Linked DNA regions of Homo sapiens. The protein of the gene in region 1 interacts with the protein of each later gene in a biochemical or structural test. Each region holds a gene or a part of one and is shown in the gene's direction. Other genes may lie near its edges.

What was found.
Region 2: the proteins of CTBP2 (region 1) and ZFPM2 form a complex in vitro, tested with the Homo sapiens proteins (2 studies listed by BioGRID).

Annotation. Positions count from the first base shown.
Region 1 is NC_000010.11:124,992,880-124,996,630, reverse strand, and holds part of CTBP2 (C-terminal-binding protein 2), read left to right. Parts: intron 1-1,947; coding exon 1,948-2,162; intron 2,163-2,645; coding exon 2,646-2,776; intron 2,777-3,301; coding exon 3,302-3,429; intron 3,430-3,751. UniProt on the Homo sapiens protein: Corepressor targeting diverse transcription regulators. Functions in brown adipose tissue (BAT) differentiation. Isoform 2 probably acts as a scaffold for specialized synapses.
Region 2 is NC_000008.11:105,321,323-105,325,073, forward strand, and holds part of ZFPM2 (zinc finger protein ZFPM2), read left to right. Parts: intron 1-3,751. UniProt on the Homo sapiens protein: Transcription regulator that plays a central role in heart morphogenesis and development of coronary vessels from epicardium, by regulating genes that are essential during cardiogenesis.

The DNA of each region.
Region 1 (3,751 bases):
GCCGTCACGGGACTTCTTCCTGGGGTCGTTCCTGTAGCTGTGCCCTTGTCATTCAACTTTAAAAACCCTCTCGGTGTATAGAGGTCAGTGCAGCCCCCTGCCGCCGCCCTGTTTTCTCGAGACTGTACACTAACCCCTGCCGCCACCACCCTGGATCCTCAGCACAGGGACTGTCGTGCTCTCCTTGTTCCCTTTCCAGGTGTCTCTGTAGCCTTCAGGACTGTCGCTGCTGCAGCCATCCTGGGCTAAGAGCTTTTGCTGGCCTCGGGTTCTACTGAGCAAGAGTCCCCCAGGCCCAGCGGGCTCAGTGCAGCAGGCGGGGTGGGACGGTGCCGCCAAGAGAGGGCAGCCTGGGGCTGGGGGCATGGACAGAAACTGAAGGAAAGGCAGCCTGTGGGAGCTGCGCTTTTAAAATAAGCGGCATGGGGGGCCGGGGGGGGCGCTGTGACGGGGGAGCAGGTCTCTTCTGTAGGGACTGGGTTTTGATTAAGTCAGTAGCAGGATTAAGTCATTGGGTCATCAGAAAATCTCATGGATAAAGTTCAAGGGGTTTGTGAACTTTAAAAAAAAAAAAAAAAAAAACAAAGAAATAGCCGTCGGCACGGTTCAAATCTGGGCTTGGTGCTCTGGGCTGCTTTTCCACAGGCCCTCCAGGCCCTGGATCTGCAGAGTGTGAGCCCCACTGATTGAAGCATGTTCGTGCACAGACGCCATGAGGGGGATGGAGGCTGCAGGAACGGGGGAAGGCAGGCGGGGGTCCTGTGAAGTGTGAGCTCCCAGCAGTTGCATGCTGGGGTCCTCAGTTTCATGTTGCCAGTGCGTCAGAGAGCCATCTCTCACTCCGTCCCTGCCACCGTCCAGTCCTGCCTGCTGTAAAGGGTGACACTGAGGAGGAGAGGCGTGATGGTTCGTGCCTTGCTATACTAGTTGTCCTGCAGCTGTCCCTGATCAGACTGGCCTTATTCAACCTTTGTTCTAAACTACGGCAGTTGTCCTAGCCAGGCCATCGGTTAGATGGAGCTGCTGCAGGAGGAGCCATCCAGCATTGAGGTACCCCTGGAACACAGGCTGCCTGCTCGGAAATGCGCATCTTTGTCCTTCTCCTGCCTGCACCTTGGAGCCATGGCTTTAAAGATTCCTTCTGTGATCTCCAAGAGAACCAGTCGAGCATCAACACTAACCATTTTGTTTTCAAAATGCTGAAAACTGCTCTGGGAAGCTGGAGGTGCTATCGAGGGGGACCCCATGGGTTTATGAAATGACAGCCGTTGGGGAGTGGGAGACACCTCCTCATCCTGTGACATAGCTGGCGGGAGGCCCAGGCTGCATAATGCAGATGGGCGCGAGGCCCCACCAGTGGGACAGGTCCAGGTCTGATGGTCATGTGCCCTGCCTCCCGCCCAGAACACAGTAGCATGTGGCCAGTCTGCACTCGGGCCAGCCTGCAGGGAGCCATTGTGCTCATGTCACCCTTTGCAGGAGCGAGCCCAGCAATGAGGAGGCAGGACATTACTCCCTGTGACATTGAGAGCAAGTTTTTCAAACACAAAGCTCATGTTAAGAAGCCTGCAGTGCACACAAGAAGTGGGGAGAGGGGTGGGAACGGAGGACACGGGTGGTGATGGGAGGGGCATGTGGGCTTGTCAGAACACTCTGTGTTTGAAAATGTCAATAACAAGGAAGGGTTTTGTTTTGTTTTTAACAAAAATCCTGCTGTACCCAATATAAGCAGCAAGCACTGCGGTCCTCACCTGTCCTACACCGGCCATGGTGGCCCCTCGCGGGCAGTGCTCGCCTCAGGCCTCACTAAGCTTTGGGCACACGGTTTCTCTGGCAGCAGCTACCAGCGGGGATGCCAAGCCCGGACTCAGCTCAGAAGCAATGGAGGTGGCAGCGCTGGGGCGCGGGCTGTGGACTCACTCACCTGGACGCTCTGTTTCTGTACAGGTCGCACGGGGCAGGCGGTTGCAGTTCGAGCCAAGGCCTTTGGATTCAGCGTCATATTTTATGACCCCTACTTGCAGGATGGGATCGAGCGGTCCCTGGGCGTGCAGAGGGTCTACACCCTGCAGGATTTGCTGTATCAGAGCGACTGCGTCTCCTTGCACTGCAATCTCAACGAACATAACCACCACCTCATCAATGACTTTACCATAAAGCAGGTAATTTGAAAATAGATGCCATGGAAGCTTCTGTCGAAAGGTGGTAGCACTTGCTTGTGGGCACAAGAGGGACACGGAGGGCAACGGAGGTGGTTTCTGGATACACTGTTGAGCAGGGAAGAGGCCCTGCAACAAACCAGTGACAAGCCACGTGAAGCCCCTTCCTCGGGCTGAGCCAGGCTAAGCAGAGAAGGACAGGCGCTAGCCAGGACCCAGCTTCAGAAGCTTCCCAGAACCTTTAAAGAGGCCAGCAGCTCGGCACAGTCCAGCCTTTCCACCGTGTTGCTTCCTCTCAGGATCAGCAGCAACGGCCCTGGCTTCCAGCCGTCACCAACACTTCCCACTCCCTTCCCTCAAACTGCAGCACACACATTAAACCACCAGACCAACAAAACTAGCTTGCAGCTTTCTTCTTTAAACCTTGGTACAAGAGTCTTCCACCATGCCAGTGTGCCTGTAACCGGCTTTTCTTTCCTTCCACAGATGAGGCAGGGAGCATTCCTTGTGAACGCAGCCCGTGGCGGCCTGGTGGACGAGAAAGCCTTAGCACAAGCCCTCAAGGAGGGCAGGATACGAGGGGCAGCCCTCGACGTGCATGAGTCAGAGCCCTTCAGGTGCGTGTTGCCCCAGCCGCCTACCAGGAGCCCACAGGGCCCAGCTCCACACCTGACCCCCACACTTTGAACTCGAGGCCCTTTTCCCAAACAGGTCCCTGGGCAGGAAACTCCAGAGATGACATTTACAGTCTCTGTTCTTCTAAGGATTGTGCTGTATTCTAATTGTAAAAGGGCTGGAAGTTTCCCAGAGGTCATCAGGGAAAGGAGAGGCAGAAAATTGGTGGGGGTGTGGCAGTGGTTCTGGTCTTCAGACAGACAGGCATCATCTCTGCCCTGGATTACAGCAGGACAAGCCTTCAATAGAATTGGGCTTTTTGATCTACCAATTATACGGTTCTTACACAACTTTGATAATTACATTCAAAAATTCCCAGCCTTCATAAAATATCATCACAGATGTTCCTGTATCCATGCTATCTATGTAGCTACTTTTCTACATGGCCAAGAGCTCCCTTGTGCTGAGGAGGGCAGGGAGCGTATGCGACATTTCCCGCTTACTCTGTTTTTTCTACATTTTTCTAGCTTTGCTCAGGGTCCGTTGAAAGATGCCCCGAATCTCATCTGCACTCCTCACACTGCCTGGTACAGTGAGCAGGCGTCACTGGAGATGAGGGAGGCAGCTGCCACCGAGATCCGCCGAGCCATCACAGGTGAGCCCCTCCGTGCCTCTGGCCTGCCAAGGGCAGCCTCAGCTCCACAGTGCAGCCGGCTCCTGTCCTGCTGGCTACAGGCAGCTCTCGACAGGTAGAATTCACTTTTAGCATCAAATTTATATGAGTTGGGCCCTGTTTATTTACGTAAGCCCTGAACTAAACTTCACAGAGGGAACCATTCCCTTTAGTCCCAGACATTATAAACTCGGGGGTCGGGGGGCACACAGAGGCTGAAGGTCAGTGTTGAAGAGCTCAAGCACTTGGGCCTTTGGATGTTCTACATTTTTACAAATGCTTATTTCCCCACATAAGCAGCTAC
Region 2 (3,751 bases), on another chromosome or scaffold:
CCATTTTCTATTACAAACAACACTGTTACTTTTGATGTTCTGGATCAAATATAAGTTTGGAGAATCTCAGAAAGCTATGCTCTGTGAAACAATAGCATTTCACGCCAGTAATAAAACTGCATTTTAAACTTGGAAATGTCCAGGATTAGAAAATAAAGCTTTGGCACTGCTGATAAAACATACCCAATTTGAAGCAACTATGACAAGCAAAAAGTCAGCTTATACCAGAAACTCTGAAGACAGTCAATTTAAAGGACAAAAAGGTTGTTGGGCACAGTTTTTTTTTTCTTTTACTGCATACAGTTCCCTGCTATCTAAAATTGTGATTTATGCAGTATTTTAATATTTTGCTTATTCTTTCCCCTTGGGTGCTCTCCGGGCAGCGATAAAAAGGCGACGCTGAAAGAGCACCATTAATTTGCTATGATGACTGGCCAGATAAGAGGAGATAATGGGAAAGATAAGCGGAGAAGATATACCATCAGAAACCCGATTATTACCATTAAAATTCCAGCCCAGCAATCTGCAGAAGCCTGATAATTCCTTCTCCGTTTCCACCACTTTGGATGATAAGGCAAAAAATAGTCACTCAGTGCTCCTTGATTAGACTGCCTGGATTTCCTGATAATACAGTGATAAATTATGTATTTTGCCCCCATGTTTTGTCCCAAAATTCAGATTTTTTTTTCCTATTCCAAGACTATATTTTCTGCCCTCCCCTCAGAAGCTTTCTCTCATAAGCTATTATTGTAATCCTGGTTTGATAAAAAGCCCTGATAGGACGGGAGGTGTTTGGTGTGGGAGCCATATCATGCTATCAGCCCATCTCCCCGCACAGCTGCTCGCTGTTGTTGTTTTTAGCCTTATCACCTCCTGCCAATATGCCAATAAATTGCCCAGATTGTTCTCCATTCTGGGGCTGCAGTGCAAAATTTATGACAGAAATGATGATTTTTTTCTTTTACCAATGCATCTCTTTATGATTAGTAAATGTGTTGTGTGTGCAGTTTTATTGTTATTTTCTTCTTCAAGCTGTTGTCTCTAGTAATGTGTTTACTGCCTTATATGTCCCCAACTCCAGTCACACTGAAGTGTATTGGCTATGGGTGCAGGAAGAGGTGGACATCACTTTTTTTTTTTTTTTTTGCAAATGAATGTCATTATCTGCTCTCTAGTAGTTAATATAGAGCTTGAAAAGGAGAAACTCAAGTAATTTATTTTTGTATAAGATTAGGAAAAGGCACTCTTCTTTATACCATAAAAGTAGAGTTTTCATAAAACTTTTAGATTGCTTGATCTTTTCAGAGCGTAGTGCATAAATGTTTGGTCTAGATCAGGTGCCAAATAATTTGTGGTGAAGTATAATGAAAGGGTGAATTAAGAGGCAGAATGTTTTCTTCTTGAAAAGTGAAGCAGATACTGGAAATTAGCATGCATGTTGAAAGTAAAATGTTCTGGTTAGAGAATAATCTTGTTAGCAGTTCGGTAGAGGGTCTTTCCCAGAAGTTGGAATCCATTCATATTGAATAATTACCATTTTGTTATTTGAGATGATATAACAATTTTAGGCCGTACGAATTCCTAACTTGCGCATTGGCATTTTAATGTTCTATGCTATTTTTATAAAGGGTAGGTTATAGTCAATATTTTATGCATAAAACAATTATTGTTTTAAAATAAGAATATTATATATTAAATTTATTATTTAATATTTGTCACATGAAAACCTCTAGTTGGATCATTTCTATAACCTTAAAATTATGTTATGCAAATAATTGAGTATGGCTATTTTTCATTGTTCTATGGGTCTTTTAAAAGTCTTTCTTCTATTGATATTCAATCTATAATTTTAGGGTTAATTATCTACTGTGTTGTCTTTGATATTTTTATTTTTAAAAATGTTTTGGGAATACTACCTATATTTGAAAACATTGATCATTGTTATACACAGTTAGAATGTCTTTTTTTTCTCCTGCCAAATATTAAGACAGGTTTTTGTTTTGAAACAAATAAGTTATTTTTTTTCTGAATTTTAGGGATAATTGAATATAATGCAAAATAATTCTTCTCTTTGGTCTGTAATACTTCTCATATTGGAGATTTTTATTTTCTACATTTTTGACTGAGCAACATTTCGGAAAACCTATTTTTACACGTGCCACAAATTAAAGGAACCTGTATTCTGTATAATAGTTGTTTTAGCAATAAAACAGATAGAATAGTACCTATTGCTTGTAAGATAGCATAAAAATAATTTCCTGATTTATGAATTTGAAATAATATCAATGCATAGATTTTTTCTGGAAAAATCTAGGAATAATTATTTAGTGGATTTAAAAACAGACAAATCTTAAGATGACCAATATAGTCATTTTGGTTTTTAAGAGTTAAAGACAACCTAAGAAAGTTTACCTGTAAAAGATCATTAGTCATGAAGTTAGGTTTTTTAAAGTTCAATGGAGTCAGCAATGTAAATATAAATGAACTAACATTTTTATCTCTAATTGCTTAAGAGTTTAGGGCTAAAACTTGGAGATATGACTTGAAATAAAAGAGTAGGTATGTTTTCCACTTCTGGTAACTTTCAAAGTAGTTCATTTGTAAAATTATGGAGTAAGAGGGACTATCAAGTTTAATATTATATATCTTAGTATTTCTTGGGTGAACACACAAGTTTGAATTTTCTATAAATTGCAGTTAGAGACCTTAAGAATAGTAAAATTGCATCAATTTGGTTGCTATGTGACTTGCCATATATTAAGTTGGTATTATTAAGTTAGGAAGGAAGACAATGCAATTAAGTGATTTGCTCCTGATTTTTATGTTCAGCCAATTTAAAATTTCATTATATGTTTAAGAGTTAATACAAAGATTTATACATTGCTTTGTTTGGGGGTAATCTGGGGATAAATTAAGATAGTCATTGATTATATCAATTGTCTAGCCTGTATCTATTAATATATCTATGTTTTGCCTATATCTATATGTATCCATATTATTATAGTAATGTCCATTAAGTTAACTTTGCATTACAGTTAAGGTAACTCATTTTTCTTGTTCATGAACTGTCCAAGGACTTTCTCATCCATGTTATTTCTGCTAGTTGAGGCCTTGCTATTCAAGAACTAATTAGCTCTTTTTTCAAATGATTTTTAAAAAAGAAACGAAAGTCTAATTAGCCATTTCACTATTAGTTGTTACCACTGGAAAAAGTTTTAAGAGGACAAGATTAAACCTAACACTCTAGCTAAAATGAAGGATTTGGGACTAGTGTATGGATTTCTAGTATCGATGTTTTTGTTCTTCCCCATAACCAGGACAGATCAACAATGGACTTCTCAGTTGCATTTTAATCAAACCCTATTTAAATATATAACTTTTCCTCAAAAGGTATTAAGTGAATAAACTAATTTTATTTATTCTACATTCTGTAATTTATTTTTACATTTCAAGAAAACACCTTCCCAGATGAACTTTCCTTGAAAATAACTTAATGTGTATTCAAGTTTTAAATAAAGTGATACCATTTAGAGAAAGTTTTTTGATGTTTGGCCAAATTGTGTGAAGAATATAACATTAGATTTGTATGGGAATAAGAAATATTTTTCAAAAGTAGCTTCCTTTCTTAAATGTAATCTTTGTTCACTAAAAAGTATGAGTGGATATGTTAACTTTGGAGTTCTTATCCTCCAAGTCATATTCCCTTGGATTCTTTGTTACCTTCCCAATTCCAAAGGACTAGTAGGATATT